Homo sapiens: one gene and its partners. The protein of the gene in region 1 purifies or fractionates together with the protein of each later gene. This does not show direct contact. Each region holds a gene or a part of one and is shown in the gene's direction. Other genes may lie near its edges. The genes, in order: VDAC3, FAM8A1, ACAD9, BCAP31, COX4I1, ACOT9 and CISD1.

Evidence for each region.
Region 2: the proteins of VDAC3 (region 1) and FAM8A1 purify together in Homo sapiens (affinity purification with mass spectrometry; 2 studies listed by BioGRID and IntAct, with this or other methods). This does not show direct contact.
Region 3: the proteins of VDAC3 (region 1) and ACAD9 fractionate together in Homo sapiens (co-fractionation; one large-scale study listed by IntAct). This does not show direct contact.
Region 4: the proteins of VDAC3 (region 1) and BCAP31 fractionate together in Homo sapiens (co-fractionation; one large-scale study listed by BioGRID). This does not show direct contact.
Region 5: the proteins of VDAC3 (region 1) and COX4I1 fractionate together in Homo sapiens (co-fractionation; 2 studies listed by BioGRID). This does not show direct contact.
Region 6: the proteins of VDAC3 (region 1) and ACOT9 fractionate together in Homo sapiens (co-fractionation; one large-scale study listed by BioGRID). This does not show direct contact.
Region 7: the proteins of VDAC3 (region 1) and CISD1 fractionate together in Homo sapiens (co-fractionation; one large-scale study listed by BioGRID). This does not show direct contact.

The regions. Positions count from the first base shown.
Region 1 is NC_000008.11:42,394,461-42,398,691, forward strand, and holds part of VDAC3 (non-selective voltage-gated ion channel VDAC3), read left to right. Parts: intron 1-623; coding exon 624-673; intron 674-2,217; coding exon of another isoform or gene 2,218-2,220; intron 2,221-4,231. UniProt on the Homo sapiens protein: Non-selective voltage-gated ion channel that mediates the transport of anions and cations through the mitochondrion outer membrane and plasma membrane.
Region 2 is NC_000006.12:17,602,835-17,607,065, forward strand, and holds part of FAM8A1 (protein FAM8A1), read left to right. Parts: intron 1-2,071; coding exon 2,072-2,195; intron 2,196-3,039; coding exon 3,040-3,179; intron 3,180-4,231. UniProt on the Homo sapiens protein: Plays a role in the assembly of the HRD1 complex, a complex involved in the ubiquitin-proteasome-dependent process of ER-associated degradation (ERAD).
Region 3 is NC_000003.12:128,896,344-128,900,574, forward strand, and holds part of ACAD9 (complex I assembly factor ACAD9, mitochondrial), read left to right. Parts: intron 1-92; coding exon 93-193; intron 194-1,288; coding exon 1,289-1,367; intron 1,368-2,943; coding exon 2,944-3,118; intron 3,119-4,231. UniProt on the Homo sapiens protein: As part of the MCIA complex, primarily participates in the assembly of the mitochondrial complex I and therefore plays a role in oxidative phosphorylation.
Region 4 is NC_000023.11:153,703,888-153,708,118, reverse strand, and holds part of BCAP31 (B-cell receptor-associated protein 31), read left to right. Parts: intron 1-4,024; coding exon 4,025-4,160; intron 4,161-4,231. UniProt on the Homo sapiens protein: Functions as a chaperone protein. Is one of the most abundant endoplasmic reticulum (ER) proteins.
Region 5 is NC_000016.10:85,798,495-85,802,494, forward strand, and holds the start of COX4I1 (cytochrome c oxidase subunit 4 isoform 1, mitochondrial isoform 1 precursor), read left to right. Parts: upstream 1-1,200; 5' UTR 1,201-1,258; exon of another isoform or gene 1,259-1,373; coding exon of another isoform or gene 1,374-1,390; intron 1,391-1,782; exon of another isoform or gene 1,783-1,828; intron 1,829-2,689; exon of another isoform or gene 2,690-2,710; coding exon of another isoform or gene 2,711-2,711; coding exon 2,712-2,784; intron 2,785-4,000. Other genes in the region: EMC8 (ER membrane protein complex subunit 8), read right to left, coding at 571-801. UniProt on the Homo sapiens protein: Component of the cytochrome c oxidase, the last enzyme in the mitochondrial electron transport chain which drives oxidative phosphorylation.
Region 6 is NC_000023.11:23,726,062-23,730,292, reverse strand, and holds part of ACOT9 (acyl-coenzyme A thioesterase 9, mitochondrial isoform a precursor), read left to right. Parts: intron 1-4,231. UniProt on the Homo sapiens protein: Mitochondrial acyl-CoA thioesterase. Catalyzes the hydrolysis of acyl-CoAs into free fatty acids and coenzyme A (CoA), regulating their respective intracellular levels. Regulates both mitochondrial lipid and amino acid metabolism.
Region 7 is NC_000010.11:58,285,431-58,290,086, forward strand, and holds the end of CISD1 (CDGSH iron-sulfur domain-containing protein 1), read left to right. Parts: intron 1-2,130; coding exon 2,131-2,220; 3' UTR 2,221-4,156; downstream 4,157-4,656.

The DNA.
Region 1 (4,231 bases):
ATTAAAAGCAATTATATACATATACAGATGCATATACATGTCCATATTTAATGTTATCTGGAATGTAGAATAATATATATAACATTTATGTCTCTTTGTCTGGCCCTGAGGACAATTAAATTAGGGGGTAGAACTTTTCCTCCCTCCAAACAGTGGCATTGTTTTTATGAAAGTGACAACATAACTTTTGACTTCTTTGGAGTAATGTATATTCTGATCCTAAATAAATATTTTTTAGGTTTTAAAATTTAACTTAAATTTATGTGCTGTACATATTTGATTTTTTCTTATTAACTAGTAATGTTAACTATATTTTAAACGATATATATAGCAGCACACTATTTTCAGCAATTTTGATTCTTGGAATAGTGCATATTCCTTTCATTTATTTTTTTCTTTAACTTACATTTTAAAAGTATATCTTTATTCATTTTGAGTGCTTGAAAATTATACTGCATTTATTTGGTTATAATTCAGTTTCTTGAGGAACTCTCACCCAATGAAAATACTATGCATTTTTCATATGGAAGGTACTATAGGCTATTTCATAATTTCTGAGTTGCAAAAACTAGTGAATGTCACATTTTGTACATTACTGTGTTTTTGTGTGTGTGTGTGTATAGGCTTTGGCATGGTCAAGATAGACCTGAAAACCAAGTCTTGTAGTGGAGTGGTGAGTATCTAATATATTTTTAATGAATGTAACATAATTAACTTAAAGGAATCTGTTTAAAATCATGACAGTCTAGTTACTTGAACCAGCACCATGCTGTCTTCCCCACAGCTTTGTCCTCTCAGATTTTAAACAGCATTCTTAGCCAATTAAAATAAACAACCAAGTTGAATTTTTGAAGAGACCTTTTGTGTTTCTCAGAGTATACTACAGCTTTCACTCAGAAGATGTAGAATATATATTTTTTGACCCATGTCATATGTTTATACTTTCATGAATATGTATATGGGCACCAAAAACCTCACTTCCATGATAATGGGTTCATGGAAATTTTATTACCCTTTTACAAAAACAAATTAACTTTACTCTGCCCCTTCATGATTAGTCGAAACAAAATATGTAAATAAAATGTATTTCTGCACGTATGCATGTACATTATTCTACAGTTTTTAACTGATGTTTATAAAGTTTTTTTTATTGGAAGTAAAGACTACAGTAAAGGCTATGTTGGCATATTTTCAAAGTATCATTAACAATAGCTTTTGGCTGGGTGCAGCGGCTCACACCTGTAATCCCAGCACTTTGGGAGGCCGAGGTGGGCGGGTCATGAGGTCAGGAGTTCGAGACCAGCCTGGTCAACATTCTGAAACCCCGTCTCTACTAAAAATATACCAAAAATTAGCTGGGTGTGGTGGCACGCACATAGTCCCAGCTACTCGGGAGGCTGAGGCGGGAGAATCTCTTGAACCTGGGAGGTGGAGGTTTCAGTGAGCCGAGACCAAGCCATTGCACTCCAGCCTGGGTGACAGAGTGAGACTTTGTCTTAAAAAAAAAAAAAAAAAGGCCAGGTGCGGTGGCTCACGCCTGTGATCCCAGCACTTTGGGAGGCCAAGGCGGGCGGATCACGAGGTCAGGAGATTGAGACCATCCTGGCTAATATGGTGAAACCCCGTCTCTACTAAAAATACAAAAAAATTAGCCAGACCTGATGACGGGTGCCTGTAGTCCTGGCTACTTGGGAGGCTGAGGCAGGAGAATGGCATGAACCCAGGAGGCAGAGGTTGCAGTGAGCAGAGATCGTGCCACTGTACTCCATCCAGCCTGGGCAACAGTGCAAGACTCCGTCTCAGAAAAAATTGCTTTTATTTAATAAATCTCAGCAAGTAGGTTAAGTTTTAATTTACCTTACTCTGATTTCTCCTCATTGGCTGCATCGTTTTTGGTATTTATCCATTCAAACCCATGAAAATTTTATTTCTGAATGTATAATTAGAAGGACAAAGACATGTGGAATTCTAATGATACTGTGTATAATCATGGTTTGTGACCATCATTCTTTCCCTGGGTTTCTCTGGAGTAAATAAATATATATGCACCTCCCTTACTAAGATGGGCACGCTGTGTATATAGTTCTGTTAAAATAGAAGAATCATTCTCATTTTGTGTAGGTTCCAGAATTTGCTCATTAGGTTTGTGTTGCAAAAATTATCAACTAAAATTTTATCTCCCTTTCATGCTGCTGTTGTGTGGTAATATTCATTCAGATGGTAAGAAAAAAAAGCTTATTCGTATGCTTGTTTTTATGGCTGCTTTTGGTTTCTGGTATTGATTTAGGATAAATTTCAATCATTGTTCCAAATTTCTTAGATTGTGTCTTGATATTTTTCTCATATGCTATCTACTTAACAGTAACATTTTTGTTTGTTTTGTTGCTTACTAAGCATTTAATGTAGAGCTATATGCATGTTATATGCATGTTATAAATGTGTTTTGCACTTGTTTGACCAAATTATGAAATTAGACACAAACTGAACTGTGAATCGTGAGCCTGGAACTCAACTTAGAACAATTCTAGCCTTTTTTTCTGAGATTTGTACCTGTGGCATTTTAGATTCGTGACAGACCTTCAAACTAAGAATTGATGCTGACAAGGGAGAAATGTAGACTACCCCTCTACCTTAATTTTGTGCATAAGGTTTTTCTAGCACCAAAATTAAGATTTGCATTTGTTATACTTGTCAAGTTTGTGAAAAGTAAATGTAAAAAATAAAACACTAGATAGTTGGATCTACTAAAAGAAAAATGATTGTCACGTTAAAATAATTATGTGAACAGTTAAACATGATTAACATGTTATCATTTTTTTTTTACTAAGGCCTTCCCCTAAATGTGCAGCATGATACTCTCTTTGAAACCATTCTGTGTGGTTTGATAAACAGAACATAACTTCCCAGTTGTCTCATCTGCCTGTAGAACTAGAGTTAGGGGACAGGGCATTTGTTAAGGAGAGGATTCATGTTGCAGGCAGTGAAAAAGACTGGTCAGGGTTGGCAGCATCTCATTACTGTTGGCAGGATTTCAGAAATGCTCCCTAAAACAGGACCAATCAGAATGTTTTTTCTTGACAGTTCATAGATTGTCAGTGACAGGTGCTGTCTGCTTTCCCCAGAAGGAGGTCCATTTCTAATTGCTTATTGTCATATGACTTAAAGGGCACTGAACTAGGGCAAAGGATGTATTTTATTTTATTTTATTTTTTTGAGACAGAGTCTCATTCATAGTAACTGTTTGATAGAAAGCACTCTTAAAGGTAGACAGGATAGAAAGGGGGAAAGAAGGATAAATTATAGCATTCTACTTTATTTTGAAAAATGGGTAGTACTTTCAAATATTGAAATTGTCTAAGCAGAAGTTTTGCAGTTTTGCACACAAAAGCATTAAAGTTTTCACAGCAGTGTGACTGTACTTAATGCCACTTCACTGTACACTTAAAACATTATTAAAATGGTAAAATGTATGTTACATGTATTTACCACAATAAAAAAAAACATTTTTAAAAGGAAGTAGTAAAGTGTTGACCCTATTAAAAAGGAGGAGGGCAGTATTTTGGGATTTTTAAGGACCTTGAAATTAACTGATAGTTTGAAACATATAGCAGAGAACTGATAATCTTTTTTTAGGTCATGAAAGTAAAATGTTTAAGATACAATATTTTTGGTCTTTTTAGTAAAGGCATTTGTTTTCAGTAAAGATACTTCTTTTTTAAAGGAGAGAATTTAGGATTACCATTTGGTAAGAGAGTATATGGAACAAGAGATATTAATAAGAGAAGTAGAGTAATGGAAAGATCTGAAACTGGTATTGAGCTGTCTCACTCCGTTGCCCAGGCTAGGGTGAAGTGGCATGATCTCGGCTCACTGCAACCTCTGCCTCCTGGGCTCAGGCTGGGACTACAGTCACGTGCCATCATGCCTGGCTAATTTTTTGTATTTTTTGTAGAGATGGGGTTTTGCCATGTTGCGCAGGCTGGTCTTGAGCTCCTGGACTCAAGGGATCCACCCGCCTTGGCCTCGTAACATGCTGGGATTACAGGCATGAGCCACTGCGCCTGGCAGAACTGGTTAAAATATTTAGGGACTGGAAAAGCAAGGGGAAAGGAGGAAAGAAGTTGCTCTAGAGTAGGGCTGTGGCAAGCAGTAAATGGTATTGTTTTTGATACATTGAACACTGCTTTCCAAAGTGAATATTTTCTATTTGATGAGCTAATTTTAAAGTAAT
Region 2 (4,231 bases), on another chromosome or scaffold:
TAAGAGCTTTGTTAGATTTATTGTTTTCTTGTTGATTTTAAGAAATAACTAGAAAGGAAAAAAAATAGCTTACTGAATTCTATAAGATGTGTGGGAATCTCACCTATCAAAAATAGGTAAAAAGAGCCTCCAAACCTGCTTTGATTTTATTCACCTATTCTTTTAGGCCAGGAACTAATTTACCTCTCACTATCCTGTTCCCTCTTGCTATCTTGTGGAGTCTCTAAAGACAAAGGTATAAAGAGCTTTTGGTAGGTGAATTAATAATCAACTAGATGGCATTTCCAAATGGGATTGCACATACTGTGGGGCAAGTCCCAAGTGAACTTCAAAGTGAGACGTTTATTTGAGTAATCCTTCCAGATTAACAATAATCATAATAGCAGTTACCACTTCCTGAGTACTTTCTATATGCCATGTATTGAGCTTGCTCACTTCTTTATGTGGATTCTTATTTAATCTTAATACCAAGATGAGGTGTAGAGATTAATACCACCATTTTATAGAGTTTGAAATTTGGGTTTATGAAAAGTTGAGCACAGAACCTAAAATGTTACAAAGGTAGTAAGTGACAGAGTCAAGATACAAGCCTGTGCAGTCAAATTTCAGGGTCCTTGCCAGAAACCTGTTACTGTGATTCCTCCCTGTCCCTCCCTCTCACTCCACTCCACATCCAGTGAAATACCAACTCCTTTATGTTCAATTTTCTGAATAGCTTTCAACCCCAGACCTCCTCACTGCCAGATCATTTTTCTTTTTTTGAGACAGAGTCTTGCTCTGTCACCCAGGCTGGAGTGCAGTAGTACAATTATGGCTCACTGCAGCCTTGATCTCCTGTGCCCAAGTGACACTCCCACCTCAGCCTCACAAGGAGCTGGGACCACAGGCATGCTCCACCATGCCTAGCTAATTAAAAAAAAAAATTGTTTTTTGTAGAGATGGGGTCTCCCTATGTTGCCCAGGCTGGTCTCAAACTCCTGGGCTCAAATGATCCTCCTGCCTTAGCTTCCCAAAGTGCTGAGATTACAAGCATGAGCCACCACACCTGGCCCATTTTTTATCATCATTGCTTCTCCCTACTCCGATTACTGTCGTCTCTTGCTTGGATTATAGCAGAAGCCTTCTAGTGGTAACTCAGTCTCCTGTTTTATCTCAATCCAGTCTCTGATATAAAACCAAAGTGATCATAAATCCTGGTTCTGTTCCTTTCCTACCTTAAAACCCTTCAATGGTTTCTCTTTTTAAAATGTTTATTGTTTTTTTAGAGATGGGGTCTGTGTTGCCCAGGTTGCTTTCAAAATCCTAGGCTCAGGCGATCCTCCCACCTCAGCCTCCCAAAGTGCTGGGATTACATGCGTGAGCCACCATGCTCAGCCCCTTCAATGGTTTCTCTTTACCAGCAGGATAAAGTCTGAATTTCATCATGTGGTTTATACTCAGGAGGCTGTCTCAACCTCCCAAGTAGGTGGGACTGCAGGTGCATACCACCACACCCTGCCTTTATTTCTTAATCACTGCCACCTCTCACATTTAGTATATGAGCCACACCAAACTGCTTACAGCTTCTATCATATTCTCTCTTTCTCCAAGACATTCTCTCCTGCTGTTCCCTCTTTCTGGAACGTTATTTCCTCTTCTTAGTCTGGCTAACTTCTCTTCATCCTTCAGAGCCTCATCTAACTGTCTTTTCTGGGAAACCTTCACAAGGTTAAGTGTATCTGGTGTATGTTTCCATAGTATCCTAGGTTCCCCATCACAGCACTCATCCCACTTTATTATTGCTATTTATTTATTGTTCTGTTTTCTTTGCTAGGTTAGACCCTCCACGAAAGCAGGGACCGTGTAAATTCATTCACCCTTATTTCCCCCGTGCTAGTACAGTGTCTGCTCATGATAATGCTGCTTATTTGTTGAATAAACTAATGAATGCTTTATGATACTAGATGGTTGGGAATCTAAAGATTAGTTTAGAATTTCAATTAAAATGTATGACTTGCACTAATGAAAAAAAAGTCAGTGCTACTGTTCTGGTAACTAATTATTTATAACCCCAAACTATTATTTTGTGTAGGGATATCTCTAAGTTTGCTATGCATTATATAATAGAAGAAATAGATGAAGACACATCAATGGAAGACTTGCAGAAAATGATGGTTGTGGCACTTATATACAGATTATTAGTTTGTTTCTATGAGGTAAGCTACTGACTTCAGCAAGAATTAATATTTAACAATCTAATTTTATGTTTTTACATTTATTTTTTTGAGACAGAGTCTCGCTCTGTCACCCAGGCTGGAGTGCAGTGGTGTGATCTTGGCTCACTGCAACCTCTGCCTCCTGAGTTCAAGTGATTCTCCTGTCTCAGCCTCCTGAGTAGGTGGGACTACAGGTGCATACCACCACACCTGGCTAATTTTTGTATTTTTAGTAGAGACAGGGTTTTGCCATGTAGGCCAGGCTGGTCTCAAACTCCTGGCCTCAGTGATCTGCCCACCTTGGCCTCCCAAAGTGCTGGGATTACAGGCATGAGCCACTGCACCTAGCCAACAATCTAATTTTAGATTATCAGCCCAAGACGAAAAAGTAATCGAAATTTATAATTATTCATGTCTTTTCCACATGTCTACTTTTCTGTTTTTTTTCCCAAATTTTAACTAATCATTAAGTAAAAACTTTTGGAAGAGAGACATTTTACAATTTCTTTGTAATATTTTTCAGTCTTAGAAACTCAAATAAAATTTCACTTATAGATTGTGGTCCAAAAATATACTTGTAAATTGCAATGTAGTTTTCTGCAGAAGCAGCTTACTAGAAAGTATAGTAGTCATAGAGAAATATTACAGGAGACAGACATCTTGTGGTATTGGACATGTTAGAGACCTACAGAAATGCATAAAGTTAAATGGTTAACTTTTGAGTATTCTATGCAATTCTTTCAACTTGAAAAATTTAAAACATGAAATAATATGGTGGGAAAAGTTTATCTTTAAAATTGGTATAGTTGAGCCAGTAATTTTTAAATCATCCTTCTTTCCTTAGATAATTTGCATTTGGGGAGCAGGTGGAGCTACCCCAGGGAAGTTCCTGCTGGGGCTTCGAGTTGTGACATGTGATACATCAGTGCTTATTGCACCAAGTCGGGTTTTAGTGATTCCTTCCTCAAATGTTAGCATTACAACGTAAGTCCTTTTCTTAGCTTAATCTACTACATACTTAATGAAAATAATGTGTTTTAGAATATTGGGGTTTTTTTCTTCATAGTAGATAGGCTTATATTTATTAAGTTAAAACAAAGTTTGAATATTTATTTCAGTTGTGTTACATGATTGTAGACCTCTTTTACAGTACACATTTTCAAGATGATTTTTTTTTTTTTTTTTTTGTGAGACGGAGTCTCACTCTGTTGCCCAGGCTGGAGTGCAGTGGCACAGTCTCGGCTCACTGCAGGCTCCGCCTCCCAGGTTCACGCCATTCTCCTGCCTCAGCCTCCCGAGTAGGTGGGACTACAGGTGCCCGCCACCACGCCCGGCTAATTTTTTGTATTTTTAGTAGGGACGGGGTTTCACCGTGTTAACCAGGATGGTCTTGATCTCCTGACCTCATGATCCACCCGCCTCCGCCTCTCAAAGTGTTGGGATTACAGACGTGAGCCACCATGCCCTGCCTCAAGATGATCATTTTATGAATTATAAGTCACAATACGAGAGGATGATTTGGGTGTTGATGGTGTATTAGTGCTCCACAATCAGCTTTATTATTCTTTGGACCTGTGGATGTTAGGTCAGGTACTAGTCTGCCTTGAGTCTCCATTTGGCCATGCCTGTCATTATTCCATCTTGAATAGGCAGCAGAGTTTTGACAGCTATGCATTCGTGCATCCTTCTCCTGCTGTTAGGTGAGAGCTTGTAATACTGCCAGTATTCAAGGTTAGCTGTTGGCATCTAGCGCTGGGGGAAGGTACAACCAGTGATAATGGAAACTGTGGAGGTCAGTGGCTGGTAGTCAGTTGAGCCAAACAAGGTATTGGCTGCAATTTTTGCCAGAATGATTCAGAGCTGGATTGTTACATCAAGAAATATAAACAAGTGATTCTAGAAACCTTGGTTTTGCCATCTTCAAATTTTTCTTAAAATTTGGTAGTTATAGCCGGGCACAGTGGCTCACGCCTGTAATCCCAGCACTTTGTGAGGCTGAGGTGGGCAGATCACGAGGTCAGGAGATCGAGACCATC
Region 3 (4,231 bases), on another chromosome or scaffold:
AAATATTTGCCTCAGAAAGGAAATGTTTCACAAACACCTCATGCTCTCCTTTCTCCCCACAGCTGACATTAGTCTGTGTCTGTTTTGTTTAGGGGATCATCTTGGCTGGCACTGAGGAGCAGAAAGCCAAATACTTGCCTAAACTGGCGTCCGGGGAGCACATTGCAGCCTTCTGCCTCACGGAGCCAGCCAGGTCTGTCTCTGCACAAAACGTTATCCCTCAGCAGCTGTGATGTTGCCCAAGATTCACTGGGGCAAGGGGCTGTTGGTTTTGTTGAGTAGCTGACTTTTCCTTCTTTCCAAAATCTTGCAAAGAATCAACTCAGCAACTGTTCTTGCCATTCCTCTTATCTTGACCTTATTTCTCTGTCCCAGTGAGACTTGCAAGTGAGATACCACGCTTGACAGCACTTATTAAATAAATTTTTGTGGTTTACAACACACCTTGACATACAATATAGTAATAACGTTCCGGCTTCAAAGCACCTTTCAGAATATATAGCGTGGGTGGTACTGCTCCCACTTACACATTAGGAGCTGAGGTTCAGTGAGGCTGTGTGATCTGCTGGATGGAGCAGGGCTGCGGCAGCACTCGGGACTCTGATGATAAGTCCATCACCTGGACCATCCTCCATCCTGCTTCACTTTGCATGAGAACCTGGGAACAGTCATCCTTCCTGGGGTGCCCAGAACTCATCCTCACAGGACCTCAGATGAGCCCATTGCAAGCACCCATTTCCATGTTTAAACCTAAGCCCAAGTTGTTTTCACTGCCGCTTTTTTACGTGATGTATTGAAGCAGAGGTCGGCTAAATCCAGCCTCCTGCCTGTTTTTTATAAATAAGTTTTGTTTGTTTGTTTTTGAGACAGGGTCTTGCTGCGTCACCCAGGCTGGAGTGCAGTGGCTCAATCTCATCTCACTGCAACCTCCGCCTTCAAGCGATTCTTCTGCCTCAGCCTCCCGAGTAGCTGGGACTACAGGCATGCCCCACCACACCCAGCTAATTTTTGTATTTTTAGTAGAGACGGGGTTTCACCATGTTGGCCAGATCTCAATCTCTTGACCTCGTGAACCACCTGCCTCAGCCTCATGTTCTATTAATAGCAGCAGAGTTGAGGAGGTGAGACAGACATCCTGCAGCTTGGAAAGCTGAATATGTTATCTGACCCTTCATTTTAAAAGTTTGCTGACCTCTTACAAGTACTAAAACCTCCATTTTCAGGCCCTCAAAAGCATTCATATTTATTCCCAGTATTCTCCCTTGACCACATCTTTCTGCATCTGCAGTGGGAGCGATGCAGCCTCAATCCGGAGCAGAGCCACACTAAGTGAAGACAAGAAGCACTACATCCTCAATGGCTCCAAGGTAGGGTTCCTTCCCCATGGCCACATTAGGGTCTCAGTCACAACCTTCACTGCCACTGAGTGAGCACTCTCCACACACCAGGGATTGTACCTGCTGCTGTAGCACCGACTACCTTCTTGAGCTGCTTTTATGTGTTTGTTTTTAATTTTTTTTAGTTTTTTTTATTTGCGATGGAGTCTCTGTCACCCAGGCTGGAGTGCAGTGGTGTAATCTCAGCTCACTGAAACTTCTGCCTCCCAGGTTTCCAATGATTCTCCTGCCTTAGCCTCCTGGGTAGCTGGGATTAGAGGTGCGTGTCACCACTCCTGGCTAATTTTTGTATTTTCAGTAGAGATGGAGTTTCACCATGTTGTCCAGTCAGGTCTTGAACTCCTGACCTCAAGTGATCTGCCCACCTCGGCCTCCCAAAGTGCTGAGTTTACAGGCAATGAGCCACTGTGCCCGGCTTGTAAACCCAAAAAATCTTTAAATTTTTTGTTACACAAAGTTTCAGACATATTCTGTGTGCCTGGCTGGCCCTAACTCCGGCAGTCACCTGCTTATGGCCACTGTGCCTCTTCCAGCAGCATCGCCACCTCCAGATCGCATGGTAACAATCTCAGCATGCCTCTCTAAAAGACAGGAGTTTTTTTTGTTTGTTTTTGTTTTTTAATAAACACAAAGCCGTAATACCCTTATCACATTTTAAAAATTGATAATTTCTCTTTTCTTTTGAGACAGGGTCCCGCTCTGTCACCCAGGCTGGAGTGCAGTGGCACGATCTTGGCTCACTGCAGCCTCAACTTCCTGGGCTCAGGTGATTCTCCTACCTCAACCTCCCAAGCAGCTGGGAGTACAGGCACACAGCTAACTCTTTGTATTTTTTTTTTGGTAGAGATGGGTTTTCACCGTGTTGCCCAGGTTGGTCTCAAACTCCGGGGCTCAAGTGGTCTGCCCACCTCGGCCTCCCAAAGTGCTGGGATTACAGGCGTGAGCCACTGTGCCCAGCTAATAATTTCTTACTTCTATCAGCATTCAAATATCCCTGATTGCCTCATACCTTTTTTTGGTTTAACTGTTTGCTTGAATTAAGATCCACACAAGTCCCATCTGTTGCTGTTTGTTAAGGAGTCTGTTTCTGCCTCTGTCTCCCTCTGTTTCCTTTCCTCCTCCTCACCACCCTCCCGCCTTTTTTCATTTCTTTGTAGAATTAACAAATAAATGTTGTGTGTATTTACATCTACAACATGATGTTTTTATATATGTATACCTTAAGAAATGATTAAACCCTTTCTTTCTTGAAGAAATGCAGTTGTCTGGCGGTGGAGCCTGAGCTGTCTGACAACTTTGGGTGTTCTTTCCCCCGCCCCCGCCTCCACCTGGCCATCCATGTCCCTTGGGAAAATCCTTGCTCTGGGGAAAGTGGGCTGAGCCCTGTCCTCTATTCACTCATGCTTGGTTGGCTTCTGCAGAGCCAAGGACCCTGCATGTCTGGCCTGAGGTCTGACTGGCAGCTGGAGCTTGATGGACAAAGACAGAGCTGAGGTGGGTCACATAGGGGTTTGGTTTTCTCCAAAGTCCATCTTTCTGTCCTCAGGTCTGGATTACTAATGGAGGACTGGCCAATATTTTTACTGTGTTTGCAAAGACTGAGGTCGTTGATTCTGATGGATCAGTGAAAGACAAAATCACAGCATTCATAGTAGAAAGAGACTTTGGTGGAGTCACTAATGGGAAACCCGAAGATAAATTAGGCATTCGGGGCTCCAACAGTAAGTAGCTCCTGTGCGCGCGTGCGCGTGTGTGTGTGTAAGGGGGAGACTGGCCTTTGACGGTGTGTGTGTGTGTGTGTGTGTGTGTGTGTGTGTGTGTGTAAGGGGGAGACTGGCCCTTGACTCTGTCCAAATAGCAAGATAAAATGAGATTTAAACACTTTCAGTTTTTGTTAAGCATTTTAAAAAGATCAAATTAAGAATGCCACTTGGGCTTTGTCTTTGTTCCTGCAGCTGAGTGCTGCTCACTTGAAGGCCTGCTGGTCATCCCCTGCTGTAGCTGCCCTAGCAGACACACCACCTTAGAGCTCAGCTTACAGTCCCCAGCCTTTAGTTGTCTCAGTCTGCAGTGCCTGGCAGCCTGCTTCAGGCTGTGAGTTGGGTTCAGGTCCATCTGGGTTCAGGTCCATCTGGAGGCTTGTTCTTAGAGCAGATCATAAGCACCTAAGGGGCCAAGCCAAGCCATATAAGTACTATTTTTGCCGTGGGAGACATAGTCTCCCTCTGTCACCCAGCCTGGAATGCAGTGCTGTGATCTCAGCTCACTGCAACCTCTGCCTCCTGGGTTCGAGTGATTCTCCTGTCTCAGCCTCCCAAGTAATTGGGACTACAGGCGTGCACCACCACACCTGGCTAATTTTTGTATTTTTTGTAGAGATGGGGTTTCAACATGTTGCCCAGACTTGTCTTGAACTCCTGAGCTCAGGCAGTCTACCTGCCTCAGCCTCCCAAAGTGCTAGGATTACACGTGTGAGTTACCATACCTGGCCACTTTTTTTTGGTTTGTTTTTTTTGAGACGGAGTCTCGCTCTGTCGCCCAGGCTGGAGTGCAGTGGCACTATCTTGGCTCACTGCAAGCTCCGCCTCCCGGGTTCACGCCATTCTCCTGCCTCAGCCTCCCGAATAGCTGGGACTACAGCTGCCTGCCACCACGTCCGGCTAATTTTTTCTATTTTTTAGTGGAGATGGGGTTTCACCATGTTAGCCAGGATGGCCTCGATCTCCTGACCTCGTGATCCGCTCACCTCGGCCTCCCAAAGTGCGTGAGCCACCGCACCCGGCCTTTTTTTTTTTTTTTTTAAATAGAGATGAGGTCTTGCTATGTTGTCCTGG
Region 4 (4,231 bases), on another chromosome or scaffold:
GGCCACATCTGGATTCTGTTAAGTTTCGTTCACTGGCCTTTTTTTGGACCCCAGGCCATTCTATTGGTGACCACCCTGTATCTGTAGGAGTTGCCTTTGGCTCTTAGGTTCTTTCCTGTTTTCTGGAAATGAATAGCTAAGAACAGTGATTCGGGTAAGACTACTTGGGAGATCCAGCAGAGGCAGAAGCTAAAGGCCATGTTCGTGCCCTGTCCTGGGGGCCTGGGAAGCTACAAGGGAACAGACAAGCGCACGTTAACGTGCCTGAGTGACCCAGTGTGAGGGAGCGGGAAAATGTTCTAGAAGGCTGGCTCCCAGGCTGAAAAATGCCAGTGATCAGAGAGGACCTGGTCTGCATTGCTTGGGCCCTGGGTGGGGGTTGAGGGTGTGAGGATGCAGAGGCTGGAGCTCTGGGTTGTGCCTTCAGGTCGCGGCAGTGAATGTTTTTTCCCCCTGCAGCCATGAGCCTGGCTTGCCCATCAGAACGGGTCTGAGACGGCGCCTTCCCACTCCTGTCTTCTGTCTCCTCTGTTGCTAGACTGAGCAGCTCTGTGTCTGCCTCTGCCCCTCTTGGTGCCAGGCTCCCAGGTGAACACAGGTGCAGTCTAGGCCCAGGGAGATTCTGTCCAGCCTTACGTGCAGCCTCAAATCTGTCCCCTCACCTGTCAGGGAGCATTTCCTCTCCTGGGAGTGGGATCCAGTCATCTGGAAGCCCAGCCCCGCGCCCTCCCCCCCTTTTTTTTTTTAGCTATACTTGCTGGAGTGGGCGGAAGACCCCTTTTCAGTGTGCCAGGTATGGGAGTGCAGAGATGAAGGCACAGTGCCCAGCCTAAAGACCTTCATAGCCTGGTAGGGCAGCCATATAAACGGATGGCAGCCACGCAGAGAACAGAGAATGAGGTAGTTACATGCGGGTGCCTGGGGGGCTGCTGCAGGAGCCCCCAGAAGGCGTCCCTCTGATGGGGTGGGAGATCCAAAAGGGTTTCTGGGGGGAGGTGAGGATTGAGCTGGGTCGAGAGGACATTCCGGCCTGGAGAACTGCCACACAGAGCCAGGCGTGTTCCAGGAATGGTGAGGGGTTAGGTGTTACTAGAGCAGGGGGCCACGTGGTTAGTGAAGGAGGAGAGCTCACTGAGGGCATGCGTGCTGGCAGCAGGTGGCTTAAGCAGAGGGCTGACATGGTCGGATTTGCCTTGCTCTGGGAGGTGGATGGGAAAGCCGTATGGCAGCAGATAGGGAGGAGGCGCCAGCAGTGGGGATGATGGTGGGCATGTTTGCAGTTGACATGGAAAGTGCTGGGTTGTGGCTTGGGCTGGGGGCCAAGAGGGCTGAGTCCAAGGCGGTTTGCCTGCCCACCACTACAGCAGGGGCTACACGAGGTGGTCAGGTCAGGCAGGACAAGGGAAGGCCCGTTTTGGACAAGCTGAGTCTAGAATGTCTCTGGGGACATCCAGGAGCCAATGTTTAGCAGGAGGTTAGGTATGAGTCTGGGCCACAGAGAAAACCCTTTCGGGGATAAGAGTGGCTGGGAGGAAGGTATAGGGTGTCAGCTGAAGAGTGCAGACCCCAGAGGGAGCAGAATAACAGTGGGAGGAGGGTGTTGCGAGGGGACCTCAGGAGGGTAACTTAGCAGCAGAGCAAGGAGTTCAGGGTGACCTCCGGCCTGGGCGGTTAGGAGGCCACTGGTGGCCCTGCTGCTGGCTTGGAAGGGCAGGCCTTGGCCAGCCTAGGTTGAGGAATATATGGGAGGGAAAAGACCAGGGGCTTGGGCAGGGTGACTCCAGGAAGGAGGCAGTTGAAGGTGAGGTTCCTGGGGGGAGAATGATCCCGGGTCATCCAGCAGGAAGAGAGAGGACCTAGAAGGTGTGAAAAAGAACTATCGGGCTGGGGGTGCAGTGGGAGGAGTATGCCCGGGGTGCTGTGGGGGTGGGGAGCGCCTGTGAGGGTTGGCAAGAGGAAGGGGAACCGGGGCCTGGCAGAGGGGAGCCCCAGACTGTCTCAAGGCTGGGAACTGAAGGCCTGGGCTGGGGCTGAGCAGGGCCAGGCTTTCGGACACACACAGCGTGGATCTTGCGCTGGACTTTGTGTATGCCCTGGCCTATCTTGGAAGCCCTGGTTCTCAATAGCCGGGAAGGGCCTGGGACGGTCCGAAAAGAGCTGGGCCTCTGCTGCACTGCCGCGGAAGCATTTGTGTTAGCTATCTCCCTGGGTACTGGGGTGACAGCCATGGGCACTCACCAGCAGCCGCTTGCCTGGCCTGGTGGCGGGGAGTATAGCCTTCAGTCTTGCTTGGTCCTCTCTCTACCACCAGGTGGCATGACCCCCACCCCTCAATTCCAGCTGGGAGGAGCGGTCCTCTTCCTCTTTCTACATCACTGGGATCCGCTCTGGGGCTGGGCAGCTCCTTGCCGGGGGCCTGGGTCTTAGTCAGACTTGCCTTTCTTTCTAGGCCTCTCCATTGACTTCTGGCCATGCCGATGTGAGTCAGATGCATTGTTTCTCTCTGGCTCCTAGGGCGCTCAGTAGCTTCCTCCACCTTCAGGCTGTAGCCCAGTGCGGGGCAGGCTGGTGGGCAGCTGGGGGCTGAGGCAGGGAAACCTGAGCCCTAGGCCACGAGGTCCTGGGCCGCTAATTTTAGAAAGCACATGTCACTGGAAACTCTCCTTCTCTGCCAGGAATCAACGGCCTGGCTCTCCTGGTGCTGCCAGGGGCCCCTGGGAGCCTCTCCCCAAACCAGGAACCTCAGGGGTGTCTCCTGGCCCGGGTGGGTACTTTCTGTCCTGAGTACATCTGGAAAGGGGCTCTGCCGAGGCCCTGGAGAGCCATGGCTTGGGCCAGGGAGGTAGCTCACCTTGTCTGCTCTTTACTTTCTCCAGCCCTTCCGGGCTGCCCCTGGCCATGAGCAGAGGCTGTGAAGTGTGAAGGCCTGGCTGGGGCAGGAGGCCACTTCGACTCTTCTGAGTAAGCTGTTGTTGAAGCACTCTGGACTAAGCAGATTTGTCTCTTCCTTCCCCCAGGCCCTGTGTGACCCTTGCCTTCTGAGGTGTGTGAGAAAGGAACCCCTGCCTTGTTTTGACTGTTTGAACGAGTCCTTCCCTCCTCTCTTCCTGCCAGCTAACATCTCGGGGCAAGGGTGAACCAAGGGAAATGAAGTGGCCATTCCAATCTCTGTTTGGGGACTAGCATCTGCCTCCAGCTGCCACCTGTTTGCCTGTCTCTCCTGGCTGCTTCAGAGAGGCAGCCTGCGCCTGTGTCCTGATTCCTCTACACCCTCCAGCCCAAGAAGACCTCATTCGGGGTGCTGTTACATAACGGATGTGTTCCAGCGCAGCCTGCATGATGGGTTGGGAAGGAGGCTGGCCAGAGAAGAGAGTTCTATCTTACGTTGGGACCTGGGAGCTGTTCCCTGTTAGTTTAGAGAGCAGAGTGGTTCCGAGCTCAGGTTCTGGAGTCAGGCAGACATAATTTGGAATTCCAGCCATGTCCATTTCTGGTTTTTGGCCTTGGGTACATTGATTTACGCTGCTGAACTTCAGTTTCCTCTTCTATAAGCTGGGGCAGTGATAGTAACTTCCTCATCAGGTAGATGTGAGGATGCGGCCTGGCATGTTGGAAGTGCTTGGATTGATTAGCTTCTCTCGTTACCTTACCAAGGCAAGCCCAGCCTCGCAGGGAGGAAGGTGGTGCTGTGGCTTGTCTGGCACGTCTAGGCCCCGACCCGGAAAGTGCCGCGTTCTGGGACCTCATGCTGTAGCGAGGCTCTTCCCAGCCCCCCAGGCTCCTGCTTCCAGCCCCTCTGAGAGCTGAGGGTGGCCGTTGGGCACAGCGGCAGAGGACGGCTCCTGGGCCCCACCTTTTCCCTCACGCTGCCAGCACCAGGTTGGCGGCTTCTCACTCGGCTGCCTTGGCAAGAGGGCAGGTCCAGGCTGGAGCTAGGTGTGGAGTGGGAGCAACCAGGAGGTGCTCCTGCCAGCCCTTCATGCTCTTTTTCTCACTTCTCCCTTCTTTTTGTAAATAATTGCAGCCTGCTTAGACGCCTGGTGACTCTCATTTCGCAGCAGGCCACGCTGCTGGCCTCCAATGAAGCCTTTAAAAAGCAGGCGGAGAGTGCTAGTGAGGCGGCCAAGAAGTACATGGAGGAGAATGACCAGCTCAAGAAGGTGAGCCCAGCTTCCCGACCCACCATGGGGCGTCCTGGTGTTACACTGTGGGAGCCACATTCTTCAGGGCC
Region 5 (4,000 bases), on another chromosome or scaffold:
TTCTCTTTACACAAAGCTCAGGCACATTCAATCAAGGGGAGCCAGGCCTAAGATGCATCACACAGATCTGACCATGCAACTACCTTTCTACAAGTGTCTGAGCTCCGGGGTGCCCGAGTACCGACAGCCAAAGAAGCATTTACACTTTGCCAGATAAGGAATCGGCTCTGCGAAGGTGCGAAGAACCAAATCCTAGCGATTAATGTCCCAACAACGTGAACACTTCCTGCAACTCGAAATCCTCAAGGGAAACTCTGTCGAATCCCCACCAAGTGAACGATGACTTGTTTCTACAAAGGCTACTGATTTCAGGAAACTAACGTATAACTCGTCGCCTTAAAGTGCCTCTAAAAGCATCCACGACGGTTAAAGTCGCTGCTACTACGGGACGCTATTTATTCAGCGCCAAGACCCAAGCGCCATCGTGGATCACCCCATTCCTGGCCACGGCAACCCTAGGGAGCGGGTCCTAGGAGCCTGCTGGAGGGCGACCGCTGGGCCAGCTTCCTCTCTGCTGACTGAGGGGAGGCCAGGCTGCCTGCAAGGGGAAGGGGCCCTTTCCGCGCTTACCAGGGTGAGAGCCACCTCCAGCATGGGGGCGAGGGCCAGGGTGCCGTGGAAGAGGGGGATGCAGTCCACGAAGAGGGTGTGGTGGGCGCCGGGGCCGCCCAGGGGGAGGTGCTCCTTACGCGGCTTCTGCTTCTCGGCCACCAGGAGCCCGTTGACGGCGCAGTGCGGGTACTTGGCGCCGTGCAGCACCATCTTGCAGTAGGCCTGGGTGGTCAGTTTCACCCCGGGCATGCTGACCCGGGAGGGCCCCGGAGGCCCCTGGGCGCGCGGCTGAGGCCTGGACCCGCTGCCTGGCCGCGCGGCGCCTCAGCCGAGAAGCGGGACGAGGCGGCGGCGATTGATGGCGCGGCCGCGGGCTGGCGGGGGACCCTTCAGGCCCGGCCCCGTTTGGGCCTCGGCTCCTGGAAAAGCGACTCGCGCCTCTGGGAAGCCGCAGCCCCAGACTCCAGTCGCGCTTCTCGCCCGGCGCCGCCGGAAAGCAGCCTCTCCAACGCCTGCCGGAAAGCAGCCCGGCCCGGCATTTTACGACGTTCGCAGCGCTACCCTTTTCCGCTCCACGGTGACCTCCGTGCGGCCGGGTGCGGGCGGAGTCTTCCTCGATCCCGTGGTGCTCCGCGGCGCGGCCTTGCTCTCTTCCGGTCGCGGGACACCGGGTGTAGAGGGCGGTCGCGGCGGGCAGTGGCGGCAGGTGAGACAGGAGGTGGCCGGTGCGGCGCCGCCAGGCCGGGCCGGGTCGGGGGGCCGGGAGCCATCAAGTCTGCACGTCCGCAGCCTGGCCGCTCGGCTTCAGCAGGAAGCACCGAATGGGCCTCGGAGCCAGGTGACATTGAGGCCGGCCCGTGGGGACTCCGGGCTCGGTGGCTCCAGGCTCGGGGGGCCGCCCCGAAGTGCCCGGTCCATCTTACCCGGTCTCGCAGCGGCTGCGGACCGGCCTCGGGCACTGACCTTGGAGCGCCCGCTGGCCGAGGGCTCAGGCTGCGGGGAGGCGGGCCCGCGCTCTGTGCCTGCAGCCTCCGCCCTTGCTCCTTCAAAAGGTCCCTGTGCAACCCCTCCCGGGTTTTGCGGGGCTCCCGGGCGGCGCTCGGCTTTCCAGCCTGGAAGGCGCCTATTGTTTGCTCACGCAAGGGCTAGGCCCAAGGAGAGAAGCTAGACGCGGGCGTTCAGCCCTGACGTCATGCTTGTTTATTCTGCCCCAAGGAGGGTATTTCCCCACATCACTCTCACCAGTCCTCCGAAGGGTCGATTTAAAGGGGGCCGTGTAAGGTTGATGGGCCTGAATAGAGGAGGGCCCGGGTGAGGGGGGGTCTCATAGGTTTTCCGCTCTCCTCAGGGATTGGAAATTGATCGGGGCTGTGTTGGCAGCCTTCTCCAATTTCCCCTTCTAGTCTATGTACAGGCGGTATTAGGTTTTAAACACTCAGTTGAATGTGATGCGTGCCACGGTCCCTGTGAGCTGTCACCTCCCCCCACCGCTCCCTGAAGAATGGAGTCTGTCACGGCAGCACAGTGCTTTAATGATCTCTAGCTTTTTCAGAGTCACCTTGTTAGCATTTTTTCTTCTTGCCTTTTTTTGTTTGAGACGGACTCTTGCTCTGGTTGCCCAGGCTGGGGTGCAGTGGTGCGGTCTCGGCTCACTGCAGTCTCTACCTCCCGGGTTCAAGCGATTCTTCTACCTCAGCCTCCCAAGTAGCGGGGATTACGGGCGCCCACTACCATGCCCGGCTAATTTTTGTATTGTTAGTAGAGACGGGATTTCACCATGTTGGCCAGGCTGGTCTTGAACCCCTGACCTCAGGTGATCTGTCCGCCTCGGCCTCCCAAAGTGCTGGAATTACCGGCGTGAGCCACCGCGCCCGGCCTCTCCTTGTTTTTTTAAAAAGACCAATGTTCTGTTAATTACCTGAAGCGCGTATATATTATGGCAGTTGATTTATAATGAAGCTCCTTAAAAGCATGCCAATTACTAAGAAAAACCTCATCCTAGGTCATTTTGTGAATTCAGAGACAGTGATAAAGAATGGATCATTTGCGTTGGGGAGAAGCAAACAAAAAAATTCCAAAATGCTCTGGGGCAAAAAGAAGACTAATTCCTTGCTGTTTGTCCTTATTCATAGAGAAGGTGTACATTTTTATCTTTCAGAATGTTGGCTACCAGGGTATTTAGCCTAGTTGGCAAGCGAGCAATTTCCACCTCTGTGTGTGTACGAGCTCATGGTAAGTGTGACTTTTCTTACTTTTAAATAGGCTGAACTAATTTCATTTTGCTCCTGCTGTGTATAAAGCCCTGTGCTGGAGTTTTAAAGACCTTAATTCGGCTCTTGAGGGTCTTTAGGGGAGATATAAATGTTCTCACAGGGCTTGGTTCTAGATTAAGAAGTGTTTATAAGTCAAATTGAATCTCTTCTGGATCTTTGGTTATACTGATACTTCCCCACTTACCCTTCCCTTCCGTTCCACTTTTTTAAGCTTCGAGATCTACCCCTTTCAAAAGATCTTCTGCACCATAACTGACTGACCTTAATGACCTCCCTCCCCACCTTGCCCCCACAACTCCCAACCATTTGCATCACCTCTGTTTACATTATAGAGGCAATGGAAACGAAAGAGCCTGGACTTCCTAGCCTGAGCTGGGTTTTCATCTCATTTCTATCAAGGACTAGCTACTGAAGCTCAGGAATCTCTTTGCTCACCTGAAGTATATGGACAGAGCTTAGTTCTGTGTCTGGCATACAGCACATTTACTTTTGCATGTATCTGGCGTCTATCTACTTTGTACCAGACACTGTTAGGCACCGAGAAGAAAAAGAATATGAAATACACACACTTTCCAGGAGGCTGTTTGCAATCTGAAGAGGGACGGATGGGTGAAGACAGTGTTTTATTAAGAGATGGCTCCTGGGTAGAAGCATTTAGCCCGATGTGGGTTTCAGGGAAGGCTTCTGGAGGAAACTCTCCAGGGTCTTTTCATTGCCTTAGTAGAGTCTACACCCTGCCTGGTTAGAGCTGGTCTTGCCTGCCTTTCCGATCTTATTACTGACTGTTGTACTCAAAACCCAAAAACTACCATCAGAACCACCCATCCCCACTTGCTCACTGCCCCAGCCCCCTGGCCTTACTCCATTCCTCCCGTAGAGCCCCGAGTTGTGGGTGGTCGCTCCTGTCTAATCATTCACCCTCGATACAAATGTGCTTTTAGAACGGCCTCTCCTGACCATCCTTTCTCAGGAAGCTCCCTGTCACCTCACCTTGCTGTGCTTTTCCTTATAACACTGGATGCCTCATGAATGCATGTCTATTTGAGTATTGCTGTCTCAGCCTCTTAGAGTGTAAGCCTTTTGAGGCCAGGGAGCCTGCCTGTCTTACTCATTGCCGTATCTCCAGCACATAGGAGGCAGATGAAGACGAACTGCAGGCTCTTAGACAAGTCTTC
Region 6 (4,231 bases), on another chromosome or scaffold:
GGAGAAACCCCGTCTCTACTAAAAATACAAAATTAGCCAGTTGTGTTGGTGGGCGCCGTAATCCCAGCTACTTGGGAGGCTGAGGCAAGAGAATCACTTGAACCTGGGAGGCAGAGGTTGCGGTGAGCTGAGATCGTGCCATTGCACTACAGCCTGGGTAACAAGAGTGAAACTCCATCTCCAAAAAAAAAAAAAAAAAATGGCATCTACTACTTCTGAATTGTCATAATTTTTTTCTTATAAATGTAGATTCCTATTTAATGGAGGTATAGTCTGAATAATCTTTCTTACTAGTAACTTTAAAAAAAGAAAGTCTTAAACTTACAGAAAAGTTGCAAATACAGTATAAAGAATTTTTCTGTGGCCAGGCGCGGTGGCTCACGCCTATAATCCCAGCACTTTGGGAGGCTGAGGCAGGCAGATCACAAGGTCAGGAGATCGAGACCATCCTGGCTAACATGGTGAAACCCCATCTCTACTAAAAATACAAAAAATTAGCCAGGCGTGGTGGCATACGCCTGTAGTCCCAGCTATTCAGGAGGCTGAGGCAGGAGAATCACTTGAACCTGGGAGGTGGAGGTTGCATTGAGCCGAGATCGCGCCACTGCACTCCAGCCTGGGCGACAGAGTGAGACTCCGTCTCAAAAATAAAAAAGAAAAAAATTTTTTGTCCCTGAATTATGTGAGAATAAGTGGCTGACATGATGCCACATCACCCCCAAATATTTGAATATGTCTTTCCTACAAACAAGGACATTCTTCTACATAACTACAAAACAACCATAAAAAATCAGGAAATTAACACTGATGTGTCATACTGTCTAATCCTCAGGTCCCATTCAACTTTTGCCAGTGGTCCTTCATAGCAGAAGGATCCAGTTCTGAATCATATGTTGATTTAATTGTCATGTCAGGACTAGTTCCTTAATCTTTCTTTGACTTTCGTGACTTTGACATGGTTCTTTTGTGTATTGTCCCTCAATTTGGGTCTGTGTGGTGCTTCCTCATGATTAGCTTTGGGTTATGCATCTCTGGCAGGAATGTCACAGAAGGGATGCTCTGTTCTTATTGTATCCTATCAAGTGGTGCATGGTTTTGATTTGTCTCATTACTGATGATATCAGCTTTGCTTACTGGATGACGATGATGTCTGCCACTGTTCTTCACTGTAAAGTTACTCTTTTCCCCTTTGTAATTAATAAGTACCTTATGTGGGGGGGGGTGGCAGGTAACTTTGAGACCTTCATCAGACTTTCAATTCATTATTTTTAAATCAGTATGGACTCAGGAATTCCTATGTTACTGAATGGACTATAATATGTTACTATCATCTATTTGATGTTCACATGATCCCAGGAGTGTCCCAGTCCCTTCAGGCTAGCTTCTGTGTGGTTTTCTTTGATGTGTCCCCATTATTCTTTGAGCACTTTCTCACTTTCTGGCACAATAAAATATTCTAGGCTCATCTTATGCTTTTCCCTGCCCCAGTCCTAGAATCACCCACATCTCCAAGGAGCCCTTTTTTGAAATGGAGAATGATATTTTGAAGTGGAGGATGATATTTTGAAATGGAGATATGTGCGTTGGGAGTGGTCATTATTCCTGGGTATCACTGCTCCCATACCCTCTTAGTGGAGGAGCTGGGAAATATATGTGCATATACGTACATATATGTTATTTCTAAATCTTTGTACAGATGTATGTATGAAAACCATGGGATCGCACTGATAGCTCCAATTCCAGTTCAGCCACCACGGGGTTCATTCTCATTTCCTTCCTTTCCATATTTGTAATTCCCTTCTCCAACTGGCTCCATTCTCCTTAATATATTGACTTATTTAATCAGTTCCGCTGTATGTGACCAATTTCCTATGGCTGCCACCCCTCATGCATCATGGATGCTCCCCTCACCTTACCTGGGCTCTGGTACCCCACACCAGGTCCCCCTCTGCAGGCTCACCCTCTTCATTGTGCTCAAGCTGTGACATGCTCTGCCATCACTCTTGCAGCCTCTCTGCAAGGATGTCCTCCTCACCGTGCTTGGATGCCAGCACCCTACTCTAGGTTACCTTACTTGCTCCCACCTAATGATATTTGGGCTGAATGGTTGGGAAAGGGTCTGAAAAAGGGTTCTAATATATTGTTTAAAAAACTATTTTTTTATAGAGATGGGGTCTCCCTGTGTTGCCCAGGTTTTTCGTGAACTCCTGGGCTCAAAGGATCTTCCTGCCTCAGCCTCCTAAAGTTCTGATTACAGGTGTGAGCCGCCGTGCCTGGCCTTTTTTTTTTTTTTTGAGACAGAGTCTCACTCTTGTTGCCCGGCCTGGAGTAGAGTGGTCCGATCTTGGCTCATTGCATCTTCTGCCTCTGGGTTCAGGCGATTCTCCTGCCTCAGCCTCCTGAACAGCTGGGATTACAGGCACCCGCCATCACATCTGGCTAATTTTTGTATTTTTAGTAGAGACGGGGTTTCACCATGTTGGCCAGTCTGGTCTCAAACTCCTGACCTCAGGTGATCTGCCTGCCTCGGCCTCCCAAAGTGCTGGGATTACAGGTGTGAGCCACCATGCCAGGCCCTAACTTTTAAAATATAGATACAAGCTTGTTGTTAAGCTTACGCCTAGCAACTACTTTTCTCTAGATTAAATAAACCCAGTTAAAAATTCTTGGCTGGGCACAGTGGCTCACACCTGTAATCCTTGCACTTTGGGAGATCGAGGCAGGAGGATCGCTTGAGGCCAAGACTTTGAGACCAGCCTGGGAAACATAGTGAGTCCCCATCTCTACAAAACCCAAAAAATTAGCTGGGCATGGTGGCATGCACTAGTAGTTCCAGCTACTCAGAAGACTGAGGTGGGAGGATTGCTTCAGCCCAGGAAGTCGAGGCTGCAGTGAGCTGTGGTGACACCACTGCACTACAGCCTGATTGACTTTGGTTTGCTTAGGTGTCCTTATATATACAAACTCCCCTGCCACTACCCTCTTTCTTGCTCATTAACTTCTGTTGATGGCCAGTCCCTTTAACCTGTTCACTTGATTCTATTCCTTCTATTTCTTCAAGGAACTGCCTTATCACTTGGCTTTCTCCCTCATTTCCTGAGCCTTTTCTCAACTTCACTTTTCCCTCAAGTTATAAACATATTCAAGGTTCTTCCATCTTAAAATGAAAAATAGGCCGGGCAGGGTGGCTTACGCCTGTAATCCCAGTAGTTTGGGAGGCCGAGGCGGGTGGATCACTTGAGGCCAGGAGTTCGAGACCAGCCTGGGCAATATGGTGAAACCCCGTCTCTACTAAAACTACAAAAAGTAGCCGGGCGTGGTGGTGCGTGCCTGTAATCCCAGCTACTCGGGAGGCTGAGGCACGAGAATCGCTTGAGCCTGGGAGGCAGAGGTTGCAGTGAGCTGAGATAGACTCCAGCCTGGACAACAGAGCGAGACTCTGTCTCAAAAACACAAAAATTAGCCGGGTGTAGTGGCATGTGCCTGTAGTCCCAACTACTCAGGAGGTTGAGGCAGGAGAATGGCTTGAACCCGGGAGGTGGAGGCTGCAGTGAGCTGAGATCGCACCACTGCATTCCAGCCTGGGTGACAGAGTGAGGCTCTGAGTCAAAAAAAAAAAAAAAGATAAGTAAAAAATCCTCTTTCCTTATAACACCTCACACTTTCTTCCTTACTTCATAGCTCACTTTCTGAAAAGAACCTAGAAAATCACCTGCTCTCATTGCCTCTTTATGCTAACTTCCTGTTAATTAAACATTTCCCGGTCGGCTGTGTTCCGGCTTCTGCTCCTCCACGCCATTGAATCTGCTCTTGCCAAGCTCGCCATTGGCCCCTTTACTGCACAGTTGAATGGATACTTTTCAGGGCTGACCTGACCCCTTTGTGGCTTCTTATATCGTCCAGCCCATCCTTGGGCTTTGGTGACATTTCCTTCTGCTTCTCTGGCTGCTCTTTTGTAGTCCCCTTTGTAGGTTCCTCTTTTTCTGTTGATCCCTTAAATGTAGGTTATCCCCAGGGTTTTGTCTTCTGCCCTTTCAAAAACTGATTATTTTTTGAATTTATTTTATTTTATTTTGTTTATTTATTTTTTTTGAGCTGTAGTTTCGCTCTTGTTGCCCAGGCTGGAGTGCAATGGCGCTATCTCAGCTCACTGCATCCTCCATCTCCCGGGTTCAAGGGATTCTCCTGCCTCAGCCTCCCATGTAGCTGGGATAACAGGCACACACCACCA
Region 7 (4,656 bases), on another chromosome or scaffold:
ATAAGGCTAAGAATCCTCTTACTTTACTCTTCTAAATAGGCTTCTTCAAAGCAACAGTGTACCTTAGACTAAACAGTGAAACTCTAGATTCTAGAGTGTAGATACATTCAAAACACCAAGATTAAGGCAAAGATGCTAGCTCTTGTCATTTGACATGAAATAGAAATAAAAGATACAAATATAGAGAAACAAAAAAATTACTGATAATTATTCCTTCTAAGTGTAAAATCCTGAAGAGTTAAGTGAAATATTATTAAATTCTTATTTTTTCATTTTACAATAGAGGATATACTTGTTAAAAATGATTTTATATAGCAAGAATGTTCAGATATGAAAATAAATTATAATAGTGATTAAAAATATGACAGAAATAATCTTACCAGAATATACATGAGATCTGAGGATGAAAACTACAAAAGAAATTAAAACTTGGCAAAAAACATTCTCAAGCTTATCTGGAGGAATAAAGTGATAAAGTTTAATAAAGTTAACAGGCTGGGCGCGGTGGCTCACACCTGTAATCCCAGCACTTTGGGAGGCCGAGGCAGGCGGATCACGAGGTCAGGAGATCGAGACCATCCTGGCTAACACGGTGAAACCCCGTCTCTACTAAAAATACAAAAAATTAGCCGGGCGTAGTGGCGGGCGCCTGTAGTCCCAGCTACTCAGGAGTCTGAGGCAGGAGAATGGCGTGAACCCAGGAGGCGGAGCTTGCAGTGAGTCGAGATCGCGCCACTGCATTCCAGCCTGGGCGACAGAGCAAGACTCCGTTTCAAAAAAAAAAAAAAAAGTAAAAAAAAGAAACAATGAAGGAAAACTAGCCCTACAAAACACTGAAATGTTTAAAATGCAAATATCCCAGCGTAGTAGGCCGATCAACGTAACATAGAACCTATAAATAGGTGCTTTTACATGTAGAATTTATTTTGATAAAGTTACGAATAAAGGTAATAATGTGGGAAGCAATAGCCTCCAGTAATGCTGAAGCAACAGGATCTTAGAACAGCGTTTGCAAAGTGTGCTCTACAGAAAACTATGATAATAGAAATCAAAATTTAAAGTGTCCATAGTCCAGTCACCTTGAGAAACTCTGGGATAAAATTGTGTTTTTTATAGCAAAATTAAAATAATGTGTGCTGTGATTCAAATGGGCTATATGATATGTTTTTTTAACACAGAATGAAACCAAATCAGAGTGTCTTGCAGGATTCAGGTTCTTTGGACCACACTCTGCAAAACACTATGTTAGAAATTTAGTTTTGTCCCTCTCCCTCCCACTGGACACCAAAACAGCAGTTATATCTAAAATGTGAATTCATGAAAATGAATGGAAATTTGTATTTCTCACATCTCTAGAAGAAAGCTGTCTCCATGAATGATGTTAAAAAGGGAGATATTGACATATTTGTATGAAAGTGGAGAAATTGAGAATATGAAAAAATAAGCAAAATGAAAAGATTTGGGAAAGACTGCTGCAAAAATAACAGAGGAATAATATGCAGTTGATTTATTTTTTATTTTTTATTTTTATGTTTTTTGAGACCAAGGCTGGAGTGCAGTGGCACAATCTCGGCTCACCGCAACTTCCCCTCCCAGGTTCAAGCCTCAGCCTCCTGAGTAGCTGGGATTATGCGCACTCGCCACCATGCCTGGCTAATTTTTGTATTTTTAGTAGAGACAGGGTTTCACCATGTTGGCCAGGCTGGTCTTGAACTCTTGACCTCAAATGATCCACCCACCTCAACCTCCCAAAGTGTTGAGATTACAGGCATGAGCCATCGCGCCTGGCCGCAAATTGATTTTAAATAAATGAACTTAAACTCTTAGAAGTAAATAGGCAATGGACATGTTCACTAGAAAGGAATGTAACTAATATATAAACATAAGAAAGGCCTTCAACACTCATCACAATCACACTGAAATTCAATAAATGATGTGTGTATTATGCACAAGTCAATTTCTTCATCTTACTAAGTAGCATATGTAGTTTACATATGCTGTTTAAGAAAGCCTATATAAGATAGCCAAGAAAATCTTTATGTTATATGAATTAAGCATCACCTTCCACTCTGCCGAGCATAATACTGATTTTGAGATTAGATGTTTCACATTCATTCTTTCTCTTCCTAGTTCCCATTCTGTGATGGGGCTCACACAAAACATAACGAAGAGACTGGAGACAATGTGGGCCCTCTGATCATCAAGAAAAAAGAAACTTAAATGGACACTTTTGATGCTGCAAATCAGCTTGTCGTGAAGTTACCTGATTGTTTAATTAGAATGACTACCACCTCTGTCTGATTCACCTTCGCTGGATTCTAAATGTGGTATATTGCAAACTGCAGCTTTCACATTTATGGCATTTGTCTTGTTGAAACATCGTGGTGCACATTTGTTTAAACAAAAAAAAAAAAAAAAAGGAAAAACCAACCTGCATGGCCTGTGGGTTATTTTGGTCTTGTAAGGATCCATTTCTTTAAAATACTGACATATAGAGTTGTACCTTATATAGAATATAGTTGTATCTTGAAGTCAACATATTAAATTATTCTCAAAATTATGTATTTGCAGATTGTACTTGTAAGTTTCAAAGAAAAATTACCATCTTTTCATATTGACCTGGAAACTAAATAGGATGTGATTCAGCTACATTAATTTCTTAATACAATCTAGGAAAGACCTGTTGTAGCCTTGATTTTCTTGACATTGGTAATGACACTGAGAAAATATGGCTTCTGTTTTTCACCGTTTTCAATCAAAATGATTGATAAATGTTATTCTGTTTAATTTCATAAGTCAGGTCAATAATAAAGGGGTGGTAACTTCCTCATATTTATCTTCACAGATATTTAATGAAGATGGATCCATTAAAGGAGCCAATAGTGAAAATTTAGTTAAAGGTGATATTAGATTTAAATTAGTCATGAAGAATGTCTTAAAATCTAATGTTCCAGAATTCTGGCCCAAGGAATGGTAAGCACTTGAACTGAGGATTTTGAAGGAATTGGAACATATAATGTCAAGTCTTTTGATCACTAAGCCACATATCCTGACAGAAATAGTAGTCACAAGATTAGATCAAAGGCGTGGGAAGATTTTTTTTTTTCCCACTCTAGCTAATCAAGCACATGGCTTTTAAATTGTATGATCTTTTTCTTAAAAGCAAAAATTTGAAGACAAGTGTTTGTTTATGTAATATTCTTCAAAGACTCCGAGCAGAAACATTGCATTCATTGTTGATTCAGAAAAAAGAAAATATAAAAACTGAAAATAATTAGCAATAAAAGATTTAAGACAAATAGTTCATAAATATTTTTAAAGAGATTAGGTTTTTGAATTTCATAGGTTAGAAGGAAAATCATGGCAAAATTTACAGAAAATTGGGCAAACAATTGAAATTGATAAAGCAGGTAAACATCATCATTTATTTTAGTATACATGAATTCTCAGTAGTAGTCAATCACAAATTTCTACTTGCTAAAATCCATTTACCTTGACAGGAATCAAACCTGACAGCAGCATATCCTATGTAATATATGATCATGGCTATTTTTAAATATGTAGTTTTGTGTATTACTGTAGATAAAAGTTGGTAACAAAATTGTACAGTGGTTTTAAGAAGCCCATGTAACTAACTTGGACATGTCTTTAAGTCACATATTCATCATAAAATCTAAAATCCTACAAACTGATTCTATTAGATTCTTAGGGTAAATTTTTTCTTTGCCCACCTCCTTCTTTTTAAGATAAGTATGCATGTCAGCAAAACAGAGCAATCATGCTTTTAAAGATGAACTGTTTTAAAGAAAAATAAATGCATCAACTCCCAGTGTTTCTGATAAAGGGACATCCTTCTAACTTAACAGACTATTCTTTATCTTGAATTTGAAATTATATTGTTAGTCATGCATTTTTGTAATGTCAGGGGGAACCTGGTACCAGTTCTCAAAACTATAGGATTATATGAGTGTGTGTATACATATGGCAAAATTATAAATGACCACCTTACTGTGAAATATAGATCTTGAGCATTTTGAAAGGCCAAAATAATTAGGTAAATGTATTTTCAAGGTCATGTTAAAATGTTTACATGCTTTTGAACTAGCATTCATTTATGATTAAAACCCTTTTCAGGTTATTTGACCTAAAAACCAAAGTGAGTGTGGTTAGGTTAATATGAGATTTTTTTACACAAAAATCATTGTGTGCAATTACTGTTCTAGCTAAGCACCTTAATGCTTCTAAGTGCTTTTCATTTCGTTGAGGCAAGACAAGTGGGGCTTTCATCTTTTTTTTCTCTATGTCATTTATATTCTAGTTATTTCTGAAGAGTGTACTAGGTTGAGAAGTTTCTAATGTGAAAAATCTTGTTCATCTGTTCATGCAACAGACATTTATTAGGCATCTGTAGACCATATAATTGAGACAGAGAAACATTTTGGAGAATTAGAAGCTCACACTATTTATGGCATAGGTTATATAATTATGATAATTTATGATTTACTTTCTTGACAAAAACAGCTACAACCATGTATACCTACTATTTCTCCTACAAAGTAGGTGAGATTTTTTGATTTTACATTAGTTAGGGAGGTTTTTGATTTGGTTTTGCTTTAAGATAGGCATTGACTATAGCTTCTGATTAGCAACACACAG